3 linked regions of the Homo sapiens genome follow. The protein of the gene in region 2 purifies or fractionates together with the protein of the main gene of each other region. This does not show direct contact. Each region holds a gene or a part of one and is shown on either strand. Other genes may lie near its edges. The genes, in order: ATG2B, AP1G2 and ZYG11B.

Region 1 (10,888 bases), about 73 Mb from region 2:
GACACAGCAAGACCTTGTCTCAAAAAAAAAAAAAAGAAAAAAAAATTTTTATGCTTATCAAAATGCATAAATTTATACTGTTTTGATCAACTATACACTTAACAATAATTGTAATTACAACACAATCCAGAAGAAAAGTAACACTTAAAGCCCCATGATTATCTGAAGGAAATAAAGTTATGCATCACAGAAGGACATCTGGTCAATGACAGACCATGTATAGGATAGTGGTCCTGTAAGATTATAATGGAGCTGAAAAATTCCTATCACCTTAGTGACATCGCAGCCATCATAAGGCAATGTAGCACAACACATTACTCACATGTCTGTGGTGATGCTGGTGTAAATAAACCTCTTGCTCTGCCAGTCATAAGTCTAGCACAAACAGTTATACACAGTACATAATACTCGAGGGTGATAATAAACAACTATGCTACCGGCTTCTGTTTTAATACCTATACTATACAATTTAATCATTATTTTAGAGTATACTCCTACTTTAAAAAAAAAAAAGTTAACTGTAAAACAGGCTCAGGCAGTTCTTTCAGGAGGTACCCAGAAGAAGGCATTGTTATCATAGGAAAGGACAGCTCCATGCATGTTACTGTTCCTGAAGACCTTCCAGTGGAACAAGATGTGGAGGTAGAAGGTGGTGACATTGATGATCCTTACCCTGTGTAGGCCTAGGCTGTGTTTTTTTGCGTCTTAGTTTTTGACAAAAAAGTTTAAAAATTAAAAAAAAAAATTAAAAATACAAAAAAATGCTTATAGCATAAGAATATAAAGAAAAAGTATTTTTGCATAGCTGTACAATGTGTGTTTAAGCTAAATGTTATTACAAAAGAAACAAAAAGTTCAAAAATTTTTTTAAAGTTTATAAAGTTACTGTAACCTCAGGTTAACTTATTATTGAAAAAAAAAAGATGTCTTTATTAATATAGTCTAGCCGAAGTGTACAGTGTTTATTCTAGCCGAAGTGTACAGTGTTTATAAAGTCTACAGTAGTGGACAGTGATGTCCTAGGCCTTCACATTCACTCACTGACTCACTCAGAGGAATTTCTAGTCCTGCAAGCTCCATTCATGGTAAGTGCCCCATACAGCCATATCAATTTTTATCTTTTTAAAATTTTTATTTTTTATATTTTATGCCATATTTGTACATACCTTTTCTATGTTTAGATACACAAATACCATTGTGTCACAGTTGCCTACAGTATTCAGTAACATGCTGTGCAGGTGTATAGCCTAGGAGCAATAGGCTGTACCCTATAGCCTAGGTATACAGTAGGCTATACCACTGGGTTTAGGCAAGTACACTATGACGTTCACACAACAAAACTGCCTAATGACCCATTTCTCAGAACATATCCCTGTCGTTAAGCAACACATGACTGTACTGATAAAATGAATATAGTAAGCCCTAGAGCAACCACTAAGAAACAATTTAAAAATACATACTGGGCTGGGCATGGTGGCTCCCACCTGTAATCCTAGCACTTTGAGAGGCCAAGGTGGGCAGATTGCCTGAGCTCAGGAGTTCAAGACCAGCCTAGGCAGCATGGTAAAACCCTGTCTCTACTAAAAACCCAAAAAATTAGCCAGGCATGGTGACATGGGCCTGTAGTCTCAGCTACTCGGGAGGCTGAGGTACGAGAATCGCTGGAACCTGGGAGGCTGAGGTTGCAGAGAGCCGAGATTGTGCCACTGCATTCCAGCCAGGGCGAAACAGTGAGAATCTGTCTCAAAAAAATTTCATATTTTATATATATATATATATAAATCATTAAAGGAATTAAAATGTTACACTAGAAAATATTTGCTTAATGCAAAAGAAAGCCTAATGCCAACAGAAAAAATTTAATATAAACAATTTCAATTTATATGTTTTTATTGTAGAGAAATGGCAGCATGATCAATAAAAGACAAGCATAAACTATATAAATTACAATGGAATCTTGCAAAGTAAAATGGACACAGGAGTTCAATGGAAAAAGACACGATGTTAAATTTCCAACTTTAATGAAGAGATTGTTCAAGCATTTTTTAACGGATAATGTGTACGATTTTTAAATCCCACTGGATGAAAAAAGTTATATTTTAATATCAATATTTAAACAAGTTATTCTCTACAACTATTTAAAATTATAATAAAAAGTAAGTCAATTTTAAACATACAAGGAATATGTAGTTTTTTAAAAAAAATTTCAGAGATAATTGAGCAAACATGGTTAAAGACCACTCCTTCATTTATTTTTTCCAACTTTTAAGTTCAGGGATACATGTGTAGTACATCCAGGTTTGTTACATACGTAAATGTGTCCCATGGTGGTTTGCTGCACAGATCATCCCATCACTTAGTATTAAGCCCAGTATCCATTAGCTATTCTTCCTGATGCTCTCACTCCTCACCCTCTGACAGGCCACAGTGGGTGTTGTTCCCACCATGTGTCCATGTGTTCTCATCATTCAGCTCCCACTTGAGAACATGCAGTATTTGGTTTTCTGTTCCTGCATCAGTCTGCCAAGGATAACGGCTTCCAGCTCCATCCACGTGCCTGCAAAGGACATGATCTCATTCCTTTTTATGGCTGCATAGTAGTCCACTGTGTGTATGTATACTTTCTTTATCCAGTCTATCACTGATGGGCATTTGGGTTGATTCCGTGTCTTTGCTATTGTCAACAGTACTGCAATGAACATAAGCGTGCATATATCTTTATAATAGAACAATTTATATTCCTTTGGGTATATACCCAGTAATGAGGTTGCTAGGTCAAATGGTATTTCTGCCTCTAGGTCTCTGAGGAATCGCCACACTGTCTTCCATAATGGTTAAACTAATTTACACTCCCATCAACAGTGTAAAAGCATTCCTTTTTCTCCACAATCTCACCAGCCCGTGTGTTTTGTTTTTGTTGTTATTGTTGTTGTTTTACTTTTTAATAATAGCCATTTTGAGTGGTGCGAGATGGTATCTCATTGTGGTTTTGATTTGCATTTCTCTAATGACAGTGATGTTGAGCTTTTTTTTCCACATTTGTTGGTCACATGTATGTTGTCTTTTCAGAAGTGTCTGTTCACATCCTTTGCCCACTTTTTAATGGGGTTGTTTTTTTCTTGTAAATTTGTTAAGTTCCTTACAGATGCTGAATTTTAGACCTTTGTCAGACGGATAGCTTGCAAAAATTTTCTCCCATTCTGTAGGCTGTCTGTTCATTCTGATGACAGTTTCTTTTGCTGTGCAGAAGCTCTTTAATTAGATAACCATTTCTCAGTTTTTGCTTTTGTTGCAATTGCTTTTTGCTTCTTCATCATGAAATCTTTGCCCATGCCTATGTCCTGAATGGTACTGCCTAGATTTTCTTTTAGGGTTTTTATAGCTTGGGGTTTTATAATTAAGTCTTTAATTCATCTTGAGCTGATTTTTGTATATGGTGTAAGGAAGGGGTCCAGTTTCAATTTTCTGCATAGGGCTAGCCAGTTCTCCCAGCACCATCAGGGAATCCTTTCCGCATTGCTTGTTTGTGTCAGGTTTGTCAAAGATCAGATAGTTGCAGGTGTGAGAAGCCCACTCCTTTAAAACAGCATATGTTCAGGTTACTTACTAGCTAGCTGGGTGGCTCTGAACAAATCCTTAATTTCCAAGTCTCAATTTCCTGGTCCATAAAATAGAAATAGTAACTCCACAGAGTTACTGTGACCATTAATGAGGTAATATATGTAAAACTACCAACATATTAATAGTTCCTGGTACTAAGCAAACACTTTTTAAATGCGGGCCATTGGTCTTTATCTTTCACAGTACCTACCTAGTACAATGATGAGCTCTATAAAGGAACTCAAGGTGTGCTTGACAATATGAAAAAAAAGCAAACATTAAATTATATATTTCTTCTTAATACGTAATTCCATAGATTAACTAGGCAAAGAATACATCTTTATTAGTTTAAACCAAGGCATCAGAATTCAAATCGAGATAAGACAGAGCATAAAAACGCGCATGAGCTGGCTGAGGGCGGTGGCTCACACCTGTAATCCCAGCACTTTGAGAGGCAGAGGCGGGGGAACACAAGATCAGGGGATGGAGACCATCCTGGCTAACATGGTGAAACCCCGTCTCTACTAAAGATACAAAAAAATTTGCCAGGCGTCGGGGTGGGAGCCTGTAGTCCCAGCTACTCGGGAGGCTGAGGCAGAAGAATGGCATAAACCCGGGAGGCGGAGCTTGCAGTGAGCTGAGATCACGCCACTGCACTCCAACCTGGGTGACAGAGCAAGAATGCGGCTCAAAAAAAAAAAAAAAAGTGCATGAGCTAATTTAGATTAACATTTCATCAGCACCTACTACAAACAGGACACTAGAGTGTACTATTTTATACCTACATTTACACCTGCATTAAATCTTCATAATAACCCTCCGAATTAGGTATTTTTGTGCCTACTTTACAAATATGGCAATTGAGGATCAGAAAAACTAAGTAACTTGCAAAAGGTCTTCAATTAATCACTGCGGAAACCCACAAAAAAGAGAAATGTATTTTCACATGGAAGATTTTGCAGGAGGCTAAGCAAAATCATGTGTTAACATATCATAATTTTTTTTAACGTAGTACTGGTTTGGGGGCTGGCTCATAGAACAAGCTTTTAAAACGCAATGGAAAAACTCTCCATTCCTTTAGTGCAAGTATTTTTAAAAATGCAGTCAAGGATCACATGTATCAGAATCTCCTAGGATGTTTATTAAAAATGCAGATTCTTGAATTTCTAGAGCCAAAATCTGTATGGAAGGGGCCAGAAGCCTGAATGTTAGCAAATTCCCAGGTGAACCCAGTGCTGTTATGTCTGAGAAGCTCAAGTTTCTTGAATCTGGGGCAGTGTGGTGTACAAAAAAAAAATATAAAGTCAGAAAGACAGGTTTCAAACCTTGCTGCACTGTTTAATACTAAGCTTGAGTAAGTTATTTAACCTCACAGTAAACAGAAAGTTAGTACCCAATTTAGAGTAAAATAATGTATGTAAAAGCACCCACACAGTACAGTATATAGAGATGGAAGGTATTTAATAAATGATCATTATTATTTTCAAAAGTAAACTAAAACCCCTAACCTTGCTCCATGTTCCCCCTAGCCATCAACCCCATTTTCTCTGTCAAGGTAGTTATCTGCTCAAACTGCAAACTACAAGCGACCTTCTAACCCTCAGCTCCTCTGAAACTGCTTGTAACCACCATTAAAATGACAAATGCAATAAACAATATTTAGTCCTCATCTTTATTGAATTCTCATCTCTACCTAGTTCCTAGGACCACTCACCTTTTTTGAAATTCTAACTTCCCTTGACTTCTGTAACACTTCACTCTCTCAATCTTTTTTCTGATCCTTTACAATTTAAAATGTTGGAGTTCATCTAAGTTTCATCTTCGGCCTTTTTTGTTTCTCAAGCTGATCTACTTACTACCCACGCACTTTGTGCAGTTCCATCTCCTGCCACTGTTATTCACTATTGATACTCTGATAACTCCCATATCTTTACAACTGCAATCTTCCTATACGTATATTCCCAGTGCCTCCTGAGCTTCTCTACCTGGATCTAAAGCCCCCACATTCTAAAGCCCCCTCAAAAATCAATATAGTAAAACTTATTCTCTGTCCAATCTCAATCTCCTCCTCCCACTCCCAACTCCAGACAGTGGAGAAAACCTGCTCCTTCTCTAGAATTTCCTATTTCACCATCAACTAGGTACCACAAGTTACGGTCATCAAGGTTCTTCCCTCTACTTGTGTTTTTCAGATTTTTTCATAGTTTTTTTTTTTTAAGAATGTTTGACACATTCCATTAAAAAAATGGCCCATCATAAAAGACTTCAAAAGGTAAGTAGAACTGCTTGCTTCATGTATTAAGTATTTCCACAACTAAAAGTTTGAAACTTTTGTACCATATTGTTATCTCTGGAAGAGATGGGATTAAGCTCTATTACTTCATACCTCATATATTTCTTTACTGTTTGAATTTTTTGTAATGAGCATATATTAATTGTATAGTAAAAATGAACTATTAAAAACCTAACAGTGTTTAAAACATATGGAGGCAATGACTTAGCTTCTGCAAACTGTCAACCTTAGACAACTATGAGAGAAACGGGACTTGATGGAACTCTCTTCTCAGTAAACACCAAGTTTTCGTCCCAATTTTGTGGCAGAGAAGTTGAAATAAAGTTAAACCTCTAAATACAAAAAGGTTTATTACAGCAGTGAAGAGTAATATTAAAGGGGCCTGGTACGGTGGCTCATGCCTGTAATTCCAGAAACTGGGGGGGGCTGAGGTGGGAGGATCACTTGAGCCCAGGAGGTCAAGATCAGCCTGGGCAACATAGTGAAATCCGGTCTCTACAAAAATTAAAAGAAATTAACTGGGTGTGGTGGTGTACATCAGTAGTCCCCACCTACTCAGGAGGCTGGATTGGAGGATCGCTTGAACCCATGAGTTTGAGGCTGCAGTGAGCTGATCACACCACTGTACTCCAGCCTAGGTAACAGAGACTGTCTCTAAAGAAAGAAAAGGAAAAAAAGAAAAAAACTGATAAATGTTAACAGTTTTGGAGAGTCAACAGTTCCAGAATTTACATTGCACCACTAAGCTACAAAATAATTTCCCTAAGTATAAGATGTTTAAATAGGTTATATTTATGCCCAGTCTTATAACCACTTGAGCAAAATCCCATATATCTTGTAGCATAAGGTACCTTGAAATTCAGTCATTCTGGGAAAATCCAAGGCTACTATAGTATATGAGTAGTAAAAATTCTCAACCTACTTGGCTCAAGCAACATTTTCCACACCAGTCCTATGAAGTGTTTCCTCACCAGTCCTATCAAGTATTTTTTTTTTTTTAGTCACCACTATGCTAACGAGAAAATAACTCTTAAACTAAAAGTGGAGACACCTGAACTACTCAGCAAATAAATGCCCCACCATAGAGTCCTTTAGAGCTTTTTATTCTTCTGTTTAAGGGTATTTTGCTTTCAATTATCATCAATGAGTTTCACGCATATAAACAGAAAAAGTGAAGGTAACACTCTAGTCTCCAGGTGACCTTTGACAAATAATCAGTAATCAATGTTTCTTGAACTGAAGATAATTTTATTAAACACCAAGAGAATATAAGCAGCAATCGAAACATTCTTAAACTGAAGTTAAAAGGCCTCAGTGGCCAGGCGTGGTGGCTCACGTCTGTAATCCCAGCACTTTGGGAGGCCGACATGGGCAGACTGCTTGAGTCCAGGAGTTCAAGACCAGCCTGGGCAACATGGCGAAATCCCGTCTCTACAAAAAATACAAAAAGTAGCCAGGTGTGGTGGCATGCACCTGTAGTCCCAGCTACTGCAGGGAGGGGAGGAGAGGTAGGAGGATCGCTTGAGCCTAGCAGGTTGAGGCTGCAGTAAGCCTAGATCACGCCACTGCACTCCAGTCTGGGTGACAGAGTGAGACCCTGTCTCAAAAAAAAAATAAAATAAAAGGCCTCAGTGTAATAAATTGTTAATGTGTATCTTCTTGAGCTCCTGTAAGAAAAGGGTCTTTGTTTAGTTCACTGCTATATCCCCCAGCCCCTCACAGTGGCACATGCTAAGAGCTCAATAAATGTACTGAATCGATTAATGAAAGAAATTCCATTTAAAAATCAAAAATAAAGGCACAGTCATAGAGTTAAAAAGGAATGAGTCATTAAATCCAACTTCCCACCCCAAATAGAATTTCCTCCTTTCAACATTTTGCCATTTCAACCACTTCTAGGGACAAGGAGTTTATGAAATTTTTAGACAGTCTATTCCAATGATGGAACAATCCCAAACCCCTTGCCTCTATTTCTCCCTCCACTTCATGCCACGTTTAAGGTAGTAATCTCCAAAACTGGATGCATATATCCTAAAGTATTATCAGATGATTCATAAGGATGTGAGAGGAAAATGAGACATTCTATATTAAATTTTCCAAATTTAGATTGAAAAGTTGTACTTATATTTAATATACAAATGGGCACTGGCACCTTCCTTCAAGCCACATATCAAACTGGTACAAAGAGAAAACTAGTAGTTCCACAACAGAGAAGGATTAAGAGTGGTGCCCTCAGTTGGATGTTCCTTCCACTTCTGCACACTGAAACATTTCCACATACATTCTATAGAATAAAACCAGACCTTTAAACAGTAGAATCTTTGTAAAGAGAAAGTGAATGGCAATTACCTTCTGGTTTCCTGGTTTCTCCTATGGCCAAGTGTTTAAGGGTTGGATTTAAAGATAAGCATTTTCCTTTTACACAGAGAAGAATTCTCCACTGACTATTTATGTATTTATGACAATGACTATCAGTAGTACATGCTACCTAGCAGATATTTTCCAAAAAACAAAACATACTTAATCTGTCTTTTCAAAATAAAGATAGCACTTTAATAATGAGTAAGAAAGCAACCACTTTTCAAAGACTACTTGTACTATGAGGAGAACATTTGAAAAACTGTATTTGGAAATGTTTCCATTGTTCCATGATTTTGTTGCTGAAAACAATGTCTATTAAAAACATTGCTTATTTTTTAAGTCATTATCTATATAGTTTACAAAATGTTTAAAAACATGAAAAGACTATTCCAACCAATCTAAGTCTTCTGAACAAAGAGCTTGAAAAACTGAATTTTAAACCTAATTGTGTGTATATATGCAATGTCAATTAGCCATAATAGAAAAACTAATTGAGATCAGGAATGAAAGGAATGTCATTGCTGAGTTCAACAAAATTCTTTGCATAATTGATCATTTAGAATTGAAACAGTAGGAGTACAGCAATTCTTCAATTAGCATCAGTTTTTCCATTAGGATCTGTGAATCTCCGAAGGTACCTTTTTTTCAGTCATGTAAGTCATTAAAATCAAGTATCTGGCTGGGTCCTATGGCTCATGCCTGTAATCTGAGCACTTGGGAGGCAGAAGTGGGAGGACCACTTGAAACCAGGAGTTCAAGACCAGCTTTGGCAACAAAGCAAGAGAATGAATCCTCTACCAAAAAAAAAAAAAAAAAAAAATCAAGTGTGAAAATAAACTGAATTTGGAATCAGAACTCTGAACAGCTGTATCTAAGGGTCACACTAAGATTTATCCTAACCATCAACACAGCACATGAAAATAAATCAGCAACAGCAAATGTTTACTGGATGCTTTGACATTATCATTTTAGTTTACAAAACCCGCCCATCAAGAACAAAACATCATCCTCAGATTAAGTTTAGTAATAAATCATTTTGCCAATGATTCTGAACTCAAACTATAAAATTCAAATATCACTACCTCTGATTTCCCATAAGGACTAAATAAAACCTCACAAATGAAAGTGCCTAGTACAATGCCTGACATAAATACATACTCAATAAACATTAACTGCCTTTCTTTTGATCTTAGGCCATGTGATGTAATACTTGCTAGATGTGTGATGGGGCAAACTGCTTAACTCCATCTGTAAAATGGAAATATTAATGCCCACCTTATAGGGTTAAAGTCATTAAAGGATAATGCATACAAAGCCCTTCCACCCACAAAAGGCATTAATAAATCCTGAACCCTCTTTTTTCAAGATAACCTATTCATAACTGTATCAAAAGTATAGAATCATGGGTTGTTGAATTCAAAAATATCCTTCAGAATCCCTATCTTTTGGAAGAATTACAGGAATACAATACCATAAGACGGACGACACAGAGATGAAGTGTGTGCTCCATTAGTGTTTACTGAACTCAGGTGAATTGCTAAGTCCATTATCACTCGGCTAATTGTGGCGGTCTGGAGAGTCTCTCCAGGGGTAGGACTCTCACCTCCTGGTGAGCGACTGGGTCTTACTGCTCTCAAACCAGGGCTCTTTCCACTATCTTGTGTCCTCTCCCTAGTTTATGTCAGGTACATACTGATAAAATTATATACTGATTTATAGTCTCTAGCACAAATTCGCTTAAGGGTCATAATAAGGTATTTCCATAATTTAAGATTTTCTGTGGCTAAGGAAGTAAGGGTTGGGCAAAGGGTAGAAGTCACTCTATTCCTGTCAAACCCAAAAGTGAATATACTTTAAGTAAAATGCTATGCATTGAACACACAAATGCAGGTACGACTGCATGTGGTGAGTCGAAATTCAGATGAAGCACCTGTATAGCAATGAGTGAATTCACAGCCTCTAGATGACAAGTAGAAGGCAGGTTTTAAAATGTCTGAAAATTGCAACTTCAGCGCTTTTGCAACACCTGCTTTTACGATCTGTCACGTGGAGCAAAGAGGCATAACTCAACAGCACTACTAGGGCCAGACGACCATTCACAGGCTGGATACACAAACCTATCTTGTAAACATATAATCAAGCAAAAGCAGGCAAACCGGCACAAGAGGCCTTCACCTAACTTTCTTCCAGATGGCAAACGCTGCACGATGACAAACAAGGCAAACATGGTGCGCAAGCAGCCAACCCAAAACAAATAACTAGGGATTCTGACATCCAAAGGTCCTCTTCATCCTTAATCCTTCCAGAATGTCATCCCACAAGGCAGGGTTTGTTTGCCACAAAACCCTGCGGCCCCTCACATCCCGAGGGACAGTTCTGGTCACCTCCTCCCACGGACCTATTGAGCCTGCTTCACAGACCCCCGAAGCACTGACTCAATTATTCCCACAGTGTAGATTCCATTACATCTGTTAAAGTTTCCGGAACACGTGATTTAGGAGAGCAAACTTGTTAGAAACAGATTAAACAACACTCTAACACATTTCTCTGAGCCGTGTCACACTCGGGTCCAAACAATTCCCAAGGAGGGACTGACTGTCACCAATCTTGGATGGCACTGGTTCAAAGCGCCCT
Region 2 (9,613 bases):
ACTCCCGGACTCTGCCAGTCAGGATGGTGGTGCCTTCGCTGAAGCTTCAGGACCTCATCGAAGAGATTCGCGGGGCCAAGACTCAGGCCCAGGAGCGGGAGGTGATCCAAAAGGAGTGTGCCCACATCCGGGCCTCCTTCCGCGACGGGGACCCAGTGCACAGGCACCGGCAGCTGGCCAAACTGCTCTACGTCCACATGTTGGGCTACCCCGCCCACTTTGGACAGGTACTGGCCAGGAATACCTCCCTCCTGAGCTTGATGAAGGCTAGTGGGGCAGAGTCCCAGACTCTCTCACCTGTTTATGCCCTGGTTTTTTAAATTCTACAATTTCAGAGTCTTCACAGCCTGCACTGCAAACCTCTTTCCCCATTGCTACCCCTACTGGTCATCAGCTGGCCTGAACCCTTCATTCTCTGGCCAGCCTCCTTTAGGGCAGGCATCTCCTCCTCTCCGCTCCCATCCTCCTCAACTCCTAGTTCCTCCTACCCACTAACGCCTGAATTTCCTAAGCTTCTCCTCTTGTTGAAGGGAGAGTGATGAGATATGATGCCCCACAGGTTAATCTGGTTTTAAAGAGGAAGATGGAACAGGGATGTGAGTGTCTATGGTTTCACCCCTGCCTCTTCCTGGTCTGCCCCCTTCACTATAGATGGAGTGCCTGAAACTGATCGCCTCCTCCAGATTCACAGACAAGAGGGTGGGCTACCTGGGGGCCATGCTTCTATTGGATGAGAGGCACGATGCCCACCTGCTCATTACCAACAGCATCAAGAAGTGAGAGGGTTCTGGCAATCACTTGGAATCAGGGAGATGGGAGAGTAGGGACCTTGGAAATCCCAGGGGACTGCCTGTTGTGGGTATTGAAAAGGACTGATTTTCTCAGAGGTTTGACTGACCGTCCTCCCAAACCCTGCAGTGACCTGAGCCAGGGGATTCAGCCAGTACAAGGCCTGGCCTTGTGCACTTTGAGCACCATGGGCTCTGCTGAGATGTGCCGAGACCTGGCCCCAGAGGTGGAGAAACTGCTCCTGCAGCCCAGTCCCTACGTGCGCAAGAAGGTGAGATGGCGGGACTCCTGGCACGTGCTCCTGCACACTGCCTGCTGCGTGCTATATAGTAGTAGATGCAGGGGTCCATCTCCTCTGACCCCTGTCTGAGGCCCCTGACCTCTGCAGGCTATTCTGACTGCAGTGCACATGATCCGGAAGGTCCCTGAACTCTCCAGTGTCTTCCTCCCACCCTGTGCCCAACTGCTTCATGAGCGTCACCATGGTAAGGCTGTGGGGCCCCCCATCCTTTGCTTCAGGTCTATGGACAGAAGAATTGAAAATCGGATGGGAACCCCAGCTCACAGGAGAAGGGTAGTGCACACACACAGGCACACACGCAATAGACTCTCTTGCCCCTGGCCCCCACCATTCACTTCCCCGACGCTGACCCCAGGCATCCTGCTGGGCACCATCACGCTGATCACGGAGCTCTGCGAACGAAGCCCTGCAGCCCTCAGGCACTTCCGAAAGGTGGGCTGGTGAAGGGGCAGGCCCTGGGCCTGGAAGACAGGGTCAGTGGGGAAGGAATGGGGCTTTAGCTGGAGAGGATTAGAACGAATGCCCAAAGTTGTGCCCTCCCTCCAGGTGGTACCCCAGCTGGTACACATCCTCCGGACTCTGGTGACAATGGGATACTCCACAGAACACAGCATATCTGGAGTCAGCGACCCCTTCCTGCAGGTGGGGTGACCTTTCACTGCTGTATCCCTGGATCAGAGAGGGCATAGCAGTAAGACCATGACCAGTGGTTTCCTCCCAGAGAACACTGGTTCTCTCAGTGTCCTGGGCAGCAGAGTAGCAGGCACAGGATTGCTCGGGTCATCCCAGGACCTGTGAGGGGAGAGGGAATGCCTAAAAGTCAGGAAAATACAGTTTGTTAACAATTTTTTTTTTAAGCCTGTCCTAAACTCCCCTGGCCTCACACACCTCTGTTCCCCTCCTAGGACCAAGGGACCTGTGGAGGTGAGGAGGTGGGGGAAGGCTCTAGGGAGCGAGCCAGACCCTCACATGTTGGAGTTTTCTCCTCAGCCCCACGACTCCTTATCCTATGAACCCCTCCAACTTTCCATTTTCAACCCAACCTCAGGTCCAGATACTTCGTCTGCTTCGGATCCTGGGCCGGAACCACGAGGAGAGCAGTGAGACCATGAATGACTTGCTGGCCCAGGTGGGGCCTGGGAGGGCACTGGTTAGCTGTGTTGCTTGGAGACCCCATCAGCCCTGGGTGCCCCTCACATGACTCGTCACTGTGCAGTGGCCGTGTAATTGCCTCTCCATCTCCTCTAGACAGTGAACTCCATGAAGAAGGGACACAGTCTGTCTTAGTGCTATTGCCCCAGTGCCCAGGCTGGCCCTGGCACATAGTAGAGCCTCAGGGAACTTTGTTGGATGGTTGAAGGATGGACAGATAACATGTTGGAGTCCTTCAAGAATCCTGAGGATTACCTGGGCTTGTTGGCATGTGCCTGTAGTCCCAGCCACTCAGGAGGCTGAGGCAGGAGGATCATCAGAGCCTGGGAGGTCAAGGCTGCAGTGAGCTTTGGGCGACAGAGTGAGACCCTGTATCAAAAAAAGGAGACCTGAGGAGGGCCTTGAGCAGATACATCTCCTCTCTCATCCACTCAGGTGGCCACTAACACGGACACCAGCCGAAATGCCGGAAATGCGGTCCTGTTTGAGACAGTACTCACCATCATGGATATCCGCTCTGCAGCTGGCCTACGGGTATCACCCCTTATGCCTCTCCCACTACGGCCCCGCCCACCACCTCACCCACACAGGTCCTGCTTGCTGGTTTCTCCCTCCTAGCCCCATCATCTTGCGCCAATGTGTTCCCAGTCCTCAATGGCTGAGCAGGTTGCTCCTTTCCGACTGACCCCAACTTCTGCCTCTCATAGGTTCTAGCTGTCAACATTCTTGGTCGCTTCCTACTCAACAGTGACAGGAACATTAGGTAATAGTCCCAACTGTCTACCTAGGCTGTGCCACTGATCCCCTGGCCCTCTGCCCTCCTTCCTCCAGAGCCTCCTGATCCATTTCTCTCTTATCTTATCCCTATACCCAGGACAGGACGGGGAGTGGGGGCTGATGGCCATGGTATGATAGAACCTCCCCCATCCTGACCAGGTATGTAGCCCTGACATCACTGCTTCGACTGGTGCAGTCTGATCACAGTGCTGTGCAGCGGCATCGGCCCACTGTGGTGGAATGTCTACGGGAAACTGATGCCTCCCTCAGCCGGTGAGCAGTGATAGAGGGGACAGGAGGGCAGGGCAGAGGTTCCCAGTGCCCTGTGGCCAAGACTCGAGCCAGTTTAGAGCAGCTGGAGTAAGGGGACTAAGGGGGACAGGTCCCTGGGGAAGCAGAGGGCCTGAGGCATGGACCAGGATGACCTGGGCTACCTGCATGGAAACCTCTTTCTCCTGCCAGGAGAGCCCTGGAACTAAGCCTGGCTCTGGTAAATAGCTCCAATGTGCGAGCCATGATGCAAGAGCTGCAGGCCTTTCTGGAGTCCTGCCCTCCTGACCTACGGGCTGACTGTGCCTCAGGCATCCTGCTGGCTGCAGAGAGGTGAGGTGCCCAGGAGTCGAAGAGGGTAGAATCTGGGGAGCGTCAGTACCAGGACTGATGAGCCATATATCCCCTAGGTTTGCTCCAACCAAACGCTGGCACATAGACACCATCCTGCATGTGCTGACAACGGTGAGGCAGGGGCCAGTCAGAGAGCTGGGCAGAAGTGGTCAAGATTCACCACACTGACTTGGCCATGCCCACACCTTCCAGGCGGGCACCCATGTGCGGGATGATGCAGTGGCCAACCTGACCCAGCTGATTGGGGGGGCCCAGGAGCTACATGCCTACTCTGTGCGCCGCCTCTACAATGCCCTGGCAGAAGACATTTCCCAGGTACCATTCCCACCTACCTAGGCCCAGGGCTGCCCAACCACTCCCTTGCCCATCCTGGGCCACCTCCTCCCTACTAGATTCCAATTTTTCTCTCAAGGTCACAGCTGCTTACACAGTGCAGAAGACATCTGAGCACAGAGCCCTGTTTTTAAGAACATCTGGGCTTTTGTCCTGACTCTGGTACCTCCTGGTTATGTAACTACAGATGACTAACTTCCCTTATGCTCCATGTACCCTGACTGCCTCTTAGAGCTGCCTTGAGATTAAAGCTCTTGTGTTTATGAGGTTTTATTATTACCTTGAATGCTGAATGAATTAACAGATGCCAGCCAGTATCTATAGCCCCCTTTTCCATCTTAATTAAATAGGGTGGGCAGAAAGCATCATCCACCCCTTCCACAAGGGAGGGACCCTCTCACATTTCCATCCTGTTTGGTTAGGCCATGTAGTTCTGATGCTTGGCCACCAGAGGGCAGTGGGAGCCAGGTAACAAACTTCCCTTTCCCCACTCCTCCAACCCCCCACCATCTCTGCACTGCCTAAAGGGATATTGCCAGGTCTGGAAGTGAGGAGGGGACCTCAGACACTGGCCCAGCAGTGTTTCTTTCTTTCTCTCTCTCTCTTTTTTTTTTTAAAATAGAGATGGGGGGGGTCTCGCTTTGTTGCCCAGGCTGGTCTTGAACTCCTGGTCTCAAGCAATCCTCCCGCCTCAGCCTCCCAATGCGCTGGGATTACAGGCTTGAGCCACCATGCCTGGCCAGCCCAGCAGTTTCTTATCCCATGTAGCAACCACTGGTGCAGGTGGCAGCCTGGTGCATTGGGGAGTATGGGGACCTCCTGCTGGCAGGGAACTGCGAGGAGATTGAGCCCCTTCAGGTGAGACCTCATTGGGGGTACACTGAGGAGGGACTTGTCAGGGGGACAGGACTTGCACCAGGGCCACTAACTGTATCCATGTCTGAAGGTGGACGAAGAGGAAGTGCTGGCATTGCTGGAAAAGGTGCTGCAGTCCCACATGTCCCTGCCAGCCACTCGAGGATATGCCCTCACAGCCCTCATGAAGCTCAGCACTCGCCTCTGTGGGGACAACAAGTAAGAAGGGGTCCCAGCCCCTTGAGAGATGGCCTGTCACTGGGTCCACCCATTTTTGAGTTTCTTTCCAGGCATACATGCCCAGCCCTCCCTACCCCCTAGCCCTTAGGTTCTTGTTTTTGAGCCAAATCTGGGTATTTCCCTGCTCCGTGGGCCTTTCCTTCTTGCCACATCCTGCAGTGGCACACTGCCATAGCCACTTACATACTACACTGGCCCAGCCGCATCCGCCAGGTGGTGTCCATCTACGGGAGCTGCTTGGACGTGGAGCTGCAGCAGCGGGCTGTGGAGTATGACACACTCTTCCGGAAATACGACCACATGAGGTGTGTCCAGCACTGTGCTGCAGCATGGGACCCAAACCCCTGCCCTCTCCCAAATGCCCTTTTCTAGGTACAAGGGCCTCATCCTCACCTGTGTTCTTCCATATCCACGGTGAGAGCTTCCCACCCACTGTTAATTGAAGCTAAGCTGGCTTCCAACCCTCCTTGTTCATCTGAAAATCAGCAACAACATGTCATTTTAGGAAATCAGAAGGGTACTTCTGAGCCACCATGTGCCCAGGGCTCCATATTCCTAGTCCTCATCCTAGATGCCTCTTGTGAAAGGCCCAGAGACCACACAGAGGCACACTTGCATTCCATCCTCTCAGGGCTGCCATCCTGGAAAAAATGCCTCTTGTGGAGCGAGATGGCCCTCAGGCTGATGAGGAAGCAAAGGAAAGCAAAGAAGCAGCCCAGCTTTCAGAAGCAGCCCCAGTGCCCACAGAGCCCCAGGTGAGAAGGCTAGAAACTCTGGGGTAGGAAGACGGGCTGAGCTTCATACCCAGCCCTGCCCCTTCTGTCCCTTCTGCCAGGCCTCACAGCTCCTGGATCTGCTAGATCTCCTGGATGGGGCTTCTGGGGATGTCCAGCATCCTCCCCATCTGGACCCCTCCCCAGGAGGTGCCCTGGTACACCTGCTTGACCTTCCCTGTGTACCTCCACCCCCAGGTAAGCCTAAGCAAAGGGAAGATGTCTTAGAGAAGGTAGGTGGAAATGTACTGCTCCTCCTCCTAAGCCAAGGGCTGAGGCTCATGGACCCTGCTTCTTCCTGTGTGTCCCCCATCCCATCGCCATCTCAGGAGGTAAAAGAATGAAGTCAATCATGGTCATCTGTCTTCCCTTTGTTCCAGACTTCTTTCCCTGGCCTACAGGGCCCTGCTTCCTCCCCAACCCTTCTTATACCACTTTCCCACTACCCACTCACTGCCCCCTTCTCAGCTCCTCACACCCTCCCACCCTTGGCATTTCATGTTCTTTTTTACATGGAATGTTCTTTCCCCAGCACATCAAATGACCAGCTCATTCTCACTCTTCAGGCTTCAGCTAAAATGTCAGATGCCTTCCCCTACCACTCCTATTTAAGTCAGTTCTCCCCAGTTATTCTGGCATGACTTACTTCCTTCATAGCATCTATTATGGTCTGTAATTATCTTGCCTTTTTTTTTTTTTTTTTTTTTTTTTTTTTGAGACAGCGTCTTGCTCTGTCACCCAGGCTGGAGTGCAGTGGCGTGATCTCGGCTCACTGCAACCTCTGCCTCCCGGGTTCAAGCTGTTCTTGTGTCTCAGCCTCCCAAGTCCGGGCCTCAGGTGATCCACCCACCTCAGCCTCCCAAAGTGCTGGGATTACTGGCTCACGCCCGGCCTTTTTTTATTGTTTCTCTCCCCCATTAGACAGTAAGCTCCATCCTCATCTACATGTCTACTTTGTTACTAGCCTTTCGAGTAGTGCAGGGCCAGTAGGTGTTTACTCAATTTTTGTTGAATGAATGAACAAACATGTTCTCTCAAACCTGCACACTGAGCTGCTTCTGTCTCCCTACTCCAGCTCCCATCCCAGATCTCAAAGTGTTTGAGCGTGAGGGAGTACAGCTGAATCTGTCTTTCATTCGACCCCCTGAAAACCCTGCTTTGCTGTTAATCACCATCACTGCCACCAACTTCTCAGAGGGTGATGTCACCCATTTCATCTGCCAGGCTGCTGTGCCCAAGGTTTGTAAAGATCAGAGTTCAGAGGTGGCCTGGGGACTCCAGGAGAAAAGGCCACTAAGTGGAGGAGGTGGGTGGGAGACAGTGTGAGATGGGATTGAGTCATCTGGAGATCAGCACTTGGGGAGTTACAGGAAAAGGGTGTGGAGCCACTGAGTATAGAGGGGCTGCCTGAGCCCTACCTACTGCCATACTGTGCTCTGTTAAACTCCTGTGTTCAGAGTCTCCAGCTGCAGCTGCAGGCCCCCAGTGGGAACACAGTTCCAGCTCGGGGTGGCCTTCCTATCACCCAGCTCTTCAGAATCCTCAATCCTAACAAGGTGAGCTTCAGGAGTTCCCCCAAGACAAGACCCAGGGATAGAAGAAGCCGTGGGTGCTAACCCTGGTCCCTGCTCTCCTATTCCTAGGCCCCCCTGCGGCTAAAGCTGCGCCTCACCTACGACCACTTTCACCAGTCGGTGCAGGAGATCTTTGAGGTGAACAACTTGCCTGTGGAATCGTGGCAGTAACTGTCTCCACTCACAGCCTGAAATTCTCCTGTGTCCCAAACCCCAGGGGGCCCCAGCAGCTTCGAACCTACACCTGAGGGCTACCAGCAGGTGGCGCTCTGGCTTTGCACTGCAAAAACTGGGGACCAGCCCCCTTCTCCCACAAATAAAGCCCAATAAAGCCTGAGAAGTGAGGAAAGCCATATTTGGGTATATTTGAAGTGGAAAGTGTGTATGAATAACAGCAAGGGAAGAGCATTCTTACATAGGAGGTATGCATCTTCCCCTGAGCCTTGAGAACCTGTCTCAACACGGGGGCGGGGAGGGGGCAGCTGTTGGTTCTTTCTAACCCTCTCCAGGTCAGGGAACAAATTTGCCCCTAAACTTCCACAGGAGGCACTCTACCCTCTGGGCCAGAGCTGGGCACAGTGGCAAAGTCAGATTAGAATTTCTAGAGTTCTAACAGCGATTCCCAACCATTTCCTCAACTTTTCTTCTGTTTCCCACATCCCAAGGCAGGGAAATCCCTGCTGCCTCTCCTCATCTTCTAACTCAGCTGTAAGGCGGTTTAGGAGCCGCTGGCAGAATCAATGGCATCGACCAAGGGAGGGGGGGTGGCAAGGGATTTTCCTGTGCTTAACTACTGATCACGGCTAAGTGGAAATCCTATAAACACGAGCGGAAATCAATGGAGGCTGCTTAGCGGCCAGGGGAGAGGGGCGGCCCACAGATTGCATCTGACGGATGAGCGAGAGGAAGCAGCCAGGGAGGGCTCAAGGAAGAGTAGCTTAGAGGAGGGGGAAGAAACAGGCAGCGCTGGAGAGAGAGGAGTCACTGTCAGAAGGGACACTGAGGGGAGAGGCACAGTGGGCCCAGGAGTGGACTCCGTTAGACCCAGAGTTCCCTTCCCCTTCTAGGAAGTGACACCCCTAGCCCAGGCAGTGGTCAGGATCTTCAGTCTCCTGTGGCCTCTCTCTGGAGCTGTTCACTTCTAGCAGGCGCTGATAGTCTTGAGGCCGGAAACGCTGTAGATACACAATCAGCTTGGCTGGTGCTGTCTCCTGTGCAGGCACACCTACAGGTAAAAGGACAATGAGGAGAGAAATGGACAGAGCCACAAGCACTTGGACTCTGCTCCCTGCCCACCTAGCCAGGACTCCGTGGATGTTTCCAAAGCCACACTGGGGTTCTGAATGTCACCCACCCAGCTTCTGTAACACACTAGTCCACTCCCTGCCTGCCTGTGGAAGTGGGACCTAAAAGAGCAACTTCAGGCAAGAGTGGGACTAGAAGCCACACCTCAGCCTCTCTCCTCCAGCAAGGAGAAATGGCGAAGAGGCACCCAGGCACCAAGATAAACGAAGGATGCCTCAGCGTCAGCTCATTTCAGTTATTACCCTGTTCCGCAATCAAGATTAAAGCCCTAGACCAGGCCAAAGCTCATTAGCTTAGTAATGAAGCACATGCAGAGATGTACACATAGAAACCAAGAGCTATAGAAAGAAGAGGAGGGAAGCTATAGCCATGGGGTGGGATTCACATAGAATTCTCGCCTCTACATGGTGAGGTGAGAATGGAACTGCCTGTTGCCAGTGTCTTGTTGTTAGTGCCTGGCAGCATGCTGGGCACATAGCAAGGAACTCAGTGTATGTTTGCTGAGGGGGCTCAAACAGCACTGCAGGGCTGTAAGGCCCCATGGGATGCACAATTCCTAGTGTGGATGAACTGTCTACAAGGGAATTATGCTTAGGAACAAATCTGCCAAATCATGCCCCACTGTCTCACATAACTATAATGTTATTGTCCTTTACAAAAAGCCAAAAGGACAAATTAAAAGGATCTAGGTAATTGTAAAACAAAAGGACAAGACTGGTTGGACTCTCAGTGTAGTGGGCAGTGCATCAGTCTCATGATCTGAAGATCCTGGGTCTGAGCCTCCCAGAGGGCAGCTTTTGTAAAAAGGCTTACTTTTTACTCCTTGTGGAGGAGTGGTGACTGAAGAAGAAGAAAAAAAAGAGATTGGGGGAAGGAAGAGTCAAAGCAGG
Region 3 (10,888 bases), on a different chromosome or scaffold from region 2:
GAGCGACCGAGCAAGGCTCCGTCTCAAAAAAAAAAAAAAAAAAAGAGAAATTTATCTTTCATATTTACTCACATTTCTCATTCTATTCTTTTCTTACATTTATTATCCTATAGGTGTGCTAGCAATGACTTCTCACTCACGTGTTGTTTACCTAACAAAGTTTTTTATTTTGCTTTGATTTTTTGAATGATAAATTTTTGGTTGGCTATTGAAGTCTAAGTGGACAATTTTTTTCTGTTGAATCTTTGGGTTTATAATTTTTATCACATTTTGCAAAAATTTGGCCATTATTTCTGCAAATACCTTTTTTCATACCCTCTCTAATCTCTGCTTCTTCTATGACTTCAGTTATAAGCATGTTAGACTTCTCGACATTATCCCACAGGTCCCAGAACTCCACTATTGGCTTTTTTCCCCAGTCTGATTTTTTCTTCTGTGCTTTGATTTGGATGGTTTCTATTTCTTTTTGTGTGTGTGAATAGAGACAGGGTCTCCCTATGTTGCCCAGGTTGGTTTTGAACTCCTGGCCTGAAGTGATCCTCCCACCTCAACCTCCTGTGCTGGGATTACAGGTGTAAATCAGCATGCCCTGCCATGGATGCTTTTTATTTCTCTGTTGTTTAGTCCACTGATTGTTTTTCCGGAAGCATCTCATCTGCTGTTAATCTCATCCAATATATTTTGCTTTTCAGATACTTAGTTTTGTTTTTTTTTTAATTTCTATAATTTACATTTAGGTTGGCCAGGCGCGGTGGCGCATGCCTGTAATCCCAGCACTTTGGGAGGCCAAGGCGGGCGGATCACGAGGTCAGGAAATTGAGACCATCCTGGCTAACATGGTGAAACCCCGTCTCTACTAAAAATACAAAAAAATTAGCCAGGCATGGTAGCGGTTGCCTGTAGCCCCAGGTACCCGGGAGGCTGAGGCGGGAGAATGGTGTGAACCTGGGAGGCGGAGCTTGCAGTGAGCTGAGATCGCGCCACTGCACTCCAGCCTGGGCGAGAGCGAGACTCCATCTAAAAAAAAAAAAATTTACATTTAGGTCTTTCTTATGTCTTCATTTTCTCCCTTCATGTTTATGTCTGAATTATATTTATAATATTTATAATAGCTGCTTTAAGTCCTTGTCTGCTAATTCTATTATCTCTGTTATTTTTTAGTCCATTTCTTTGGATTGATTTTTCTCCTGGTTATGAATCATATTTTTCTGCCCCTTTGTATGCCTGGTAATTTTTTTATTGGATGCCGGTCCTTGTGAAATGTAACTTGGTGATTGCTAGGTTTTATTATTTTTCTCTAAAGAGTCTTATACTTTGTTCTTGCATGCAGTTACTTGCAGATCAAGTTGCTCTTCTTGAAGCTTGTTTATGTGTTATTTTATTTTATTTTATTTTTATTATTATTTCTTTGTGAGACGGAGTCTCGCTCTGTTGCCCAGGCTGGAGTGCAGTGATACGATTTCCACTCACTGCAGCCTCCACCTCCCAGGTTCAAGCAATTCTCCTGCCTCAGCCTCCCGAGTAGCTGGGATTACAGGCACATGACACCACGCCCAGCTAATTTTTCTATTTTTTTAGTAGAGATGGGGTTTCTCCATGTTGGCCAGGCTGGTCTCGAACTCCTGACCTCAGGTGATCTGCCTGCCTCAGCCTCCCAAAGTGATGGGATTACAGGCATGAACCACCATGCTTGGCTGTTTTGGGTTTGTTTGTTTGTTTGTTTGTTTGTTTGTTTTGAGATGGCATCTCACTCTGTCTCCCAGGCTGGAGTGCAGTGGTGGGATCTCAGCTCACTGTAACCTCTGCCTCCCGGGTTTAGGTGACTCTCGTGCCTCAGCCTCCCAAGTAGCTGAGATTACAGGCATGCACCACCACACCTGGCTAATTTTTGTGTATTTAGTAGAGACGGGCTTTCTCCATGTTGGCCAGGCTTGTCTTAAACTCCCAACCTCTCAGGTATGAGCCACCACACCCAGCCCTATTTATTTGTTTTGTTAGAGTGGCGTCTTATCAGACTTTACCCTACGGTTCATATATAATTTAGCCCTACTACTATCAAATACTTTGCTTATTATAAGGTCTCTTGAGTCTGGCTAGTGGAAATGTGAACTACTCCTATCCCTGTGTGACTTTAGGATTTATTCATATACTACTTTCTGGTAGTTCTTTCCCTAGCCTCCTGGAGTTTCACCCTTGTCATTACTGAGCCAGAGATTTGGGGTACAGGTCATGTGTGCTCTGTCTCTGAGTGTGGAGCTTTGTCCTTTCCAGCACTCTGTTCTACAGAGTTTTGCTGCTTGACCACCCTAAACTATGATCTCTGTTTCAACAAAACTGCTACTTTGTCTTTGGCTTACTCTTACCTTCATTGCAGTCTGTAAACTGCCCTCATTTGAATACTTTCTCTCAGGGAAATACTTTTCTTTCACCTTCCTGAATTGCCTGTTATCCAGGGCCTAAAAACAGTTATCTTAACCATTTACTATACATATTACATTAATTTTTATATTTTCTTTTTTTTTTCCAGAACAATATAGCTGAAGTACAAGAATTACATTCTGAATTAATGTGGAAAGATTTTATAGACCACATCAGTAGTCTCCTACACAGTGTGGAAGTGGAAGTCAGTTACTTTGCAGCTGGAATTATTGCCCATTTAATATCCAGAGGTGAACAAGCTTGGACATTGAGTCGTAGCCAGAGGAATTCTCTGCTGGATGATTTGGTAGGGTCATTCCATACCAACAAAAGACATTCATAGTGGTTAAACTATCAAAGCCTCATAATGTAGTAAATAATGCAGTGCTAAATAAATATTGTAATCCTTTCTTGTGTGTCTTTTGTCTTCCAGCATTCAGCTATTTTGAAATGGCCAACTCCAGAGTGTGAGATGGTAGCATACAGGTAATTAGTATCATAATTAACAGTAAACCAGCAACCTAGTCTAGAGATCATTCCTAAGAGTCATTCCTACTAGATGCATAATTTTTCCCTCAGGCACCTCAATATTGGTTATTTATTTATTTATTTTGAGACAGAGTTTCACTCCGTCGCCATGGCTGGAGTGCAGTGCATGATCTTGGCTCACTGCAACCTCCACCTCCCAGGTTGAAGCAATTCCCCTGCCTCAGCCTCCCGAGTAGCTGGGATTATAGGCGCCCACGACCACGCCCCGCTAATTTTTGTATTTTTAGTAGAGACGAGGTTTCACCATGTTGGCCAGGCTGGTCTTGAACTCCTGACCTCAGGTGATCTGCCTGCCTGGGCCCCCCTAAGTGCTGGGATTACAGGCGTGAGCCACCACACCCAGCCAAAAGTATTGGCTTTAAAAGAAGCAAAGTATTTTGACTTTTTTCTACCACCTATCACTCTTCATGTTTCCTTCATTTCACATTTGTTGAAGACAAGTGCTAGGAATTTGTTCTATGCTCTTGAAATACAAAAATGAACAAAGACATGGTGTCTGCACACAAGAATTTTATATCCTTGTGAGGGAGAGTGAATGTGGATCAGATAAAATACCGTTATGCCAAATGTCCATAGAATGTTATGAAATTAAAGGTGAAGCCCAGTGGGGTAGCACATACCTGTAGTCCTGGGAGGATCACTTGAGCCCAGGAGTTTGAGGCTGCAGTGAGTTATGATTGCATCACTGCATTCCAGCCTGAGTGACAGAGCAAGACTCCAAATGTAAATACACACACACACACACACACACACACACCTTTCAGAGGAAGTGAGTTGTGACCTGAGTGTTGAAAGATAAGGAGAGGCAGGAGATTTTTAGGAAGAAAAAGCATCGTATTAATGTAGGAAGGTCTAAAATAAAATGACACATTGAAGGAATTAGAAGTAGCACCAGATTTGGGCCAGGCATTGTGGCTCATGCCTATAATCCCAGCACTTTGGGAGGCTGAGGTGGGTGGATCACTTCAATCCAGGAGTTCGAGACCAGCTTGGCCAACATGTTGAAACCCCTGTCTCTACTGAAAGAACAAAGTTAGTGGGGCATGGTGGTGCACACCTGTAATTCCAGCTACTTGGGAGGCTGAGGCATGAGAATCGCTTGAACTTGGGAGGTGGAGGTTGCAGTGAGCTGAGATGGCGCCACTGCACTGCAGCCTGGGTGACAGAATGAGACTCTCAAAAAAGGAATAACACTAGATTTGGTTGGGGAAACAGTTTGTAATAATTTATTAAAGGGCATACTGGGCCTGGCATGGTGGCTCACACCTATAATCCCAACACTTTGAGAGACTGAGGTGGTAGTATCACTTGAGTTCAGGAGTTGCAGACTAGCCTAGGCATCATAGTGAGACCTCATCTCTACTAAAAAATAAAAAAACCTGGGCATGATGGCATACACCTGTAGTCCCACCACTTCGGAAGGCCAAGGCAGGTAGATCACTTGAGCTCAGCCTGAGCAACATAGTGAGACCCCGTCTCTACAAAAAATAAAAAATTAGCCAGTTGTGGTGGCACATCCCTGTAGTCCAAGCTGCTTGGGAGGCTAAGGTGGGAGAATCGCTTGAGCCTGGAAGGTTGAGGCTGCAATGAGTTGAGATCGCCTTACTGCACTCCAGCCTGAGCAACAGAGTGAGACCCTGTCTCAAATAAATAAATAAATGTAAAAATAAATAAATAGGCCGGGCATGGTGGCTCATGCCTGTAATCCCAGCACTTTGGGAGGCCGAGGCGGGCAGATCACGAGGTCAGGAGATCGAGACTATCCTGGCTAACGTGGTGAAACCCCGTCTCTACTAAAAATACAAAAAAATTAGCCGGGCGTGGTGGCAGGCGCCTGTAGTCCCAGCTACTTGGGAGGCTGAGGCAGGAGAATGCCGTGAACCCAGGAGGCGGAGGTTGCAGTGAGCTGAGATCGCGCCACTGCACTCCAGCCTGGGCGACAGAGCGAGACTCCGTATCAAAATAAATAAATAAATAAATAACAAAAATTAAGAAGTGCATACTGGATGCCTAACTCTGTTTGTAATTAGATAACTTGATAATTAAATTACTAATTACCTGAAGTATTTAATTTTTATTCAACTTATTTTTTTTGTTTGGTTCATAAATGCTGATGTTGCCAACATTTTTTTTATTTCTCCAACTTATGTTCCACCTATTTTTATTCAGACCAGTAGAAAATAGAAGGGATAATTATACATCTTTTTCATAGTGTTCTACTAGTTAGTTATCACCTAATTTCTCTATTTCTTAGTTTCCAAACCAAGATCTACTTATCTTCAAATGTGTATCTTTAAGACTAAAAAGTGCTTTTGGAAAAATTTTTTCTCTTTCACTACCATGTTCTAATCACCTTCCATCTTCTGTACTGAGTCATGTCTGAATGCAGTCTTCTCTGAAATGGTTAAGACAAAGAAATGATATTCTATAGCTCATTTATATTAGTCTAAATATAATAGGATAAAATTTTGAAAATGAAAAGTTTAGGAATCACTGCTTTAGGAAATTACGCTAAATATGGGATGTAACTTTGATTCTTTTCTTTTGAACCTTTAGGTCCTTTAATCCATTTTTCCCATTACTTGGCTGTTTCACAACACCAGGAGTTCAGCTATGGGCAGTTTGGGCCATGCAACATGTCTGCAGCAAGAATCGTATGTACCAAAAAAAAAGAACTGTGTTTTTTTTCTTTAAGTGAAATTCTCATTTCCCAGGAAAGATATTTCTAAATTGTGTATTAAAGTGATTTTTAAGAACACTGACTTAAAATGTAAGGCCATCTTAGGTTATAAACTTAAGGTATTCTTTTTTTTTTTTTTTTTTTTTTTTTGAGACGAAGTCTCGCTCTTGTTCCCCAGGCTGGAGTACAGTGGCGCGATCTCGGCTCACTGGAACCTCCGCCTCCTGGGTTCAAGCGATTCTCCTGCCTCAGCCTCCCGAGTAGCTGAGATATCAGGCACCTGCCACCATGCCCGGCTAATTTTTGTATTATTATTATTTTTTTTTAGTAGAGACGGGGTTTCACCATGTTGGCCAGGCTGGTCTCAAACTCCTGACCTCAGGTGATCCGCCCGCCTAAGCCTCCCAAAGTGCTGGGATTACAGGCATAAGCCACTGTGCCCGGCCAACTTAAGGTATTCTTTCAGAATGAGCATGGTGTAACTAGACACTGAATAATAGTGGTGAATGAGACACTGTTCTCACCTCAAGGAATTTAAAGATTAGGAGACTACAGTGAGTCCATTTGTTGAGTAAAAGGTCTTAAGTAGATCCACTGTTTATGGTACATTCCGGTGCCCAATTCTCATTCACCCAAAATTCTGTTGTTCAAGATGTCGCTGCCAGCACCCATGGTTTCTGAAGAAGCAAAGTGTTTGAATCAGGTTCTATATTATTCTTTGAAAGCTACGATGTAACTCTTATTTATTTATTTAGAGACAAGGTCTGTCTCTATCACTGGAGCTGGAGTGCAGTGGCATAGTAACAGCTCACTGCAACCTTGACGTCCAGGCTCAGATGATCCTCCTGCCTCAGCTTGTAGCTAGGACTACAAGTGCACGTCACCATACCTGGCTTTTTTTTGTATTTTTTGTAGAGATGGGGTTTCATCATGTTGGCCAGGCTGGTGTCAAACTCCTAGGCTCGAACGATCTGCCTGCCTCTTCCTCCCAAAGTGCTGGCATTACAGGCGTCAGCCATCAAGCGTGGCCTAATTATTTATTAATATAAACTCATTCCACAAATGATTTGACACAAGAAATACACAGAACCACTTTAATAGTAAAGTGTGTATATATATGTGTATATATATATATATATATATATATATATATATATATATTTTTTTTTTTTTTTTTTTTTTTTTTTTTTTTTTTTTTTTGAGATGGAGTCTCACTTTGTCACCCAGGCTGGAGTGCAGTGGTGCGATCTCGGCTCACCACACCCTCCACCTCCCAGGTTCAAGCGATTCTCTTGCCTCAACCTCCAGAGTAGCTGGGACTATAGGCCTGCACCACCACACCTGGCTAATTTTCGTATTTTTAGTAGAGACAGGGTTTCACCATTTTGGCTGGGCTGATCTTGAACCCCTGACCTCAGGTGATCCACCGACCTCGGCCTCCCAAAGTGCTGGGCTTACAGGTGTGAGCCACTGTGCCTGGCCTACTTTTAGTTTTAATTAGAAGTAAGGAAAAATAATTTTTCAAAAATTATAGGGGCCGGGCATAATGGCTCATCCCTATAATCCCAGCATTTTCTGAAGTTGAGGTGAGTGGATCGCTTGAGCCCGGGAGTTTGAGACCAGCCTGGGCAACATGGCGAAACCTAGTTTCTATAAAAGATGTAAAAGAAATTAGCCAGGTGTTGTGGTGTGCTCCTGTAGTCCCAGCTACTTGGGAGGCTGAGGTGGCAGCATCATCTGAGCCCAGAAAGCAAGGCTGCAGTGAGCTGTGATGGCACCATGCACTCTGGCCTGGGTGACAGAGTGAGACTCTGTCTCAAAAAGAAAAAAAAAAATTCTAGGATAGAGGGAAAATAGTCAAATGTAGACTTGTAGGCCATGCATAGGGATTTTTGTGGCTCTGCTGCAAGTAAAAAGCGACATGGTTCTCCATATAAGAGGGAAACATTCCATATCCTTGTCAGGGGAGATGGGGAGGGGAGAGAATTTTTTATGAGAAGTTAACTATGAATTAAATTTCTTCTATTGGACCTTAATAGGGGACATACTATAAAGGGCCTTATATAGGATATGTGAGAGTTGTTTTTACTAATATCCTTATAGCAGAAGTAGTAACATTTAGTGAGATTTTCGCTTGGGTTTTTTTTTTTTTTTTGGAGACGGAGTCTCACTCTGTTGCCCAGGCTGGAGTGCAGTGACACGATCTCAGCTCACCACAACCTACACCTCCCAGATTCAAGCATTTCTCCTACCTCAGCCTCCCGAGTAACTGGGACTACAGGAACACGCCACCATGCCCAGCTAATTTTTGTATTTTTAGTAGAGGCTGGGTTTCACAATTTTGGCCAGACTGGTCTCGAACTCACCCGCCTTGGCCTCTCAAAGTGCTGGGATTACAGGCATGAGCCACCGCACCCAGCTCCTTCTCTTGTATTGTTTGATGAAAACTCACTGCATACCACAAAAAGGCAATGCAGTAAAAGCTCTTCTGTGTCAGATAAAGAAGAATAATTCAATGAATGGGATGTGACCGAGAAAACTGCCTTGTACCCACCTGAACTCCCACCTGGAGGCTTATCCGGTCCTTCCTACTACATTACCCAGAAGCAGAGTTGTTCACTCATAAATCGAAAACTGCCTCTTTAGCTACATTAAACTGTCTCTGCCCTAAAGTCGTTTTCTTTTTACTGTACCCACAGGTTCTGAGGACTCCCAAATTTCTTAACAGTTGATCCCATCATATTCCCAGTCTCTAATCTATAGGTTCCTTTCCTCATAACTCAAGGAATGGACCTTTCACAGCTCAGTAGGAGAAAATAAAACATAATAAGTAAATAATAGTGCATTTTTGGCTGGGCATGGTGGCTCACGCCTGTATTCCCAGCACTTTCGGAGGCCAAGGCGGGTGGATCACGAAGTCAGGAGATCGAGACCATCCTGGCTAACATGGTGAAACCCCATCTCTACTAAAAATACAAAAAATTAGCTGTGGGTTGTGGCACACATCTGTACTCTCAGCTACTAGGGAGGCTGAGGCAGGAAAATCACTTGAACTGGGAGGTGGAGGTTACAGTGAGCCGAGATCGCACCACTGCACTTCAGCCTGGGCGACAGAGTGAGACTCTGTCTGAAAAAAAAATAATAATAATAATAATAATAGTGCATTTTCATATGAGTATTTATTTTTGTCACTACTTTTAGGTATTAGAGTTATTTAGGTTTTACTCTATGGAATGACAGCCCTGAATAATTTATTTTATTTTATTTTATTTTTTTTTTGAGACGGAGTCTTGCTGTCGTCCAGGCTAGAGTGCAGTGGCATGATCTCGGCTCACTGCAAGCTCCGCCTCCCACTTCACGCCATTCTCCTGCCTCAGCCTTCCAAGTAGCTGGGACTATAGGCGCCTGCCACCACGCCTGGCTAATTTTTTTGTATTTTTAGTAGAGACGGGGTTTCACCACGTTAGCCAGGATGGTCTCGATCTCCTGACCTCGTTATCTGCTCGCCTCGGCCTCCCAAACTGCTGGGATTACAGGTGTGAGCCACCACGCCCAGCCCCTGAATAATTTATTCTAAAATGCACTGTAATTTGGGGAATATTAGAATATTTTGTCTCCAACTCAGATAGTTTAGGTTCCTACCTTGTGGGCTTATTTTGTTTATATTTAAATGGAATTCACTTCTATTTGTATTAAAATGTTTTAATGTGGCTGGGTGTGGTGGCTCACACCTGTAACCCCAGCACTTTGGGAGGCTGAGGCAGGCAGATCACTTAAGGTCAGGAGTTTGAGACTGGACTGGCCAGCGTGGTAAAACCCCACCTCTACCAAAAATACAAAAATTTAGCCAGGTGTGGTGGCTGGTGCCTATAGTCCCAGCTACCCAGGAGACTGAGGAAGGAGAATTGCTTGAACCCGGGAGGCAGAGGTTGCAGTGAGCCAAAATTGTGCCATTGGACTCCAGCCTGGGCAACACAGCAAGCTGCAGTGAGCCATGATCACACCACTGGGCATGAGCCATGATCACCCCAGCCTGGGCAACAGAATGAGACTGTCTTTAAAAAAAAAAAAAAAAAAAAAAAGGCTAATAAAATATTTCAAAAATTTAAAAATTGTATGTGCAGTATGAGTGCCATTAAGTTTTTAAAAAGCATAGTAAATGCAGCCTGGCATTATGGCTCATGCCTGTAATTCTAGTACTTTGGGAGGCTGAGGCGGGAGGATTGCTTGAGGGCAGGAGTTTGAGACCAGCCTAGGCAACATGGTAAAACCCCATCTCTACTAAAAATAAAAAAATTAGCCAGGGGTGGTGGCATGTGCCTGTATTTCCAGGCTGAGGCACAAGAATCGCTTGAACCCAGGAGGCGGAGGCTGCAGTGAGTCGAGATTGCGCCACTGTACTCTGGCCTGGGCAACAGGGCAAGACTCTGTCTAAAAAAAAAAAAAAAGCATAGGAAATGCATAAAAATATAACAACACTTACCTGTGATTTTGGGTCAAAGATAAGGTAGTTATGATTGTTTTTATTTTTTTAATACAGGTTGTACATGTCTTGAGGTTAGAAAAATCAAGCTAGCTATTTATTGATTGAATGTGTAGGCCTTGCACTGTAGACGTAACATCAGTATAGAGGTTATTTATCAAGCTGTAGCATGTTAGTGATCAATAACAAAACAGCTAAAAAAAAATGGCTCCTAGAAGTCATTTTTTTGTGGAATAATTTTCAAGTGTTTTAAGAAAAGCTATTTCTCCTGTTTTGTGTGTGTTTTTTTTTCTTTTTCAGCTTCAAGGTATTGCAGCATGCTGATTGAAGAAGGAGGATTGCAGCATTTATACAACATCAAAGATCATGAACATACTGATCCCCATGTCCAACAGATTGCTGTGGCCATTCTGGATAGCTTAGAAAAACACATTGTGCGCCATGGGAGGCCACCTCCCTGTAAAAAACAGCCCCAAGCCAGACTAAATTGATAGCCATAAGTATTGGATAGTTGAATCACAGGAATCCTTTTTGTGATTGGTCCATTTGGAATATCTTACCCTCCCTGATGTTTTGGGGGTTTCTATGACAAGAGTCATAAAATCAGTTTGGGATTGATAATGTGTAGTACTGCCCATGTGAACAGTCTCTAATTTGTCTTGTGATTTTAAACTTATGAGTCAAGAAGGGTCTCTTCCTTTATCATTGCCTTTTAGGAAATTTTCCACATCTTTCAGTGTTTGAACTTACTTGTGCTT

Evidence for each region.
Region 1: the proteins of AP1G2 (region 2) and ATG2B purify together in Homo sapiens (affinity purification with mass spectrometry; 2 studies listed by BioGRID and IntAct, with this or other methods). This does not show direct contact.
Region 3: the proteins of AP1G2 (region 2) and ZYG11B purify together in Homo sapiens (affinity purification with mass spectrometry; 2 studies listed by BioGRID and IntAct, with this or other methods). This does not show direct contact.

The regions. Positions count from the first base shown.
Region 1 is NC_000014.9:96,351,881-96,362,768, forward strand, and holds part of ATG2B (autophagy-related protein 2 homolog B), read right to left. Parts: intron 1-10,888. UniProt on the Homo sapiens protein: Lipid transfer protein required for both autophagosome formation and regulation of lipid droplet morphology and dispersion.
Region 2 is NC_000014.9:23,557,725-23,567,337, reverse strand, and holds the end of AP1G2 (AP-1 complex subunit gamma-like 2), read left to right. Parts: exon of another isoform or gene 1-18; 5' UTR 19-22; coding exon of another isoform or gene 23-23; coding exon 24-227; exon of another isoform or gene 228-651; coding exon 652-776; coding exon of another isoform or gene 777-918; coding exon 919-1,060; exon of another isoform or gene 1,061-1,177; coding exon 1,178-1,274; coding exon of another isoform or gene 1,275-1,445; coding exon 1,446-1,522; exon of another isoform or gene 1,523-1,636; coding exon 1,637-1,732; exon of another isoform or gene 1,733-1,882; intron 1,883-2,138; coding exon 2,139-2,219; intron 2,220-2,497; exon of another isoform or gene 2,498-2,611; intron 2,612-2,677; coding exon 2,678-2,776; intron 2,777-2,949; coding exon 2,950-3,005; intron 3,006-3,116; coding exon of another isoform or gene 3,117-3,174; exon of another isoform or gene 3,175-3,178; coding exon 3,179-3,292; exon of another isoform or gene 3,293-3,481; coding exon 3,482-3,622; intron 3,623-3,699; coding exon 3,700-3,754; intron 3,755-3,835; coding exon 3,836-3,958; intron 3,959-4,055; coding exon of another isoform or gene 4,056-4,133; exon of another isoform or gene 4,134-4,239; intron 4,240-4,744; coding exon 4,745-4,834; intron 4,835-4,922; coding exon 4,923-5,050; and 19 more. Other genes in the region: THTPA (thiamine-triphosphatase), read right to left, coding at 8,498-8,643.
Region 3 is NC_000001.11:52,811,009-52,821,896, forward strand, and holds part of ZYG11B (protein zyg-11 homolog B), read left to right. Parts: intron 1-2,527; coding exon 2,528-2,725; intron 2,726-2,851; coding exon 2,852-2,904; intron 2,905-5,523; coding exon 5,524-5,621; intron 5,622-10,430; coding exon 10,431-10,621; 3' UTR 10,622-10,888. UniProt on the Homo sapiens protein: Serves as substrate adapter subunit in the E3 ubiquitin ligase complex ZYG11B-CUL2-Elongin BC. Acts to target substrates bearing N-terminal degrons for proteasomal degradation with the first four residues of substrates being the key recognition elements.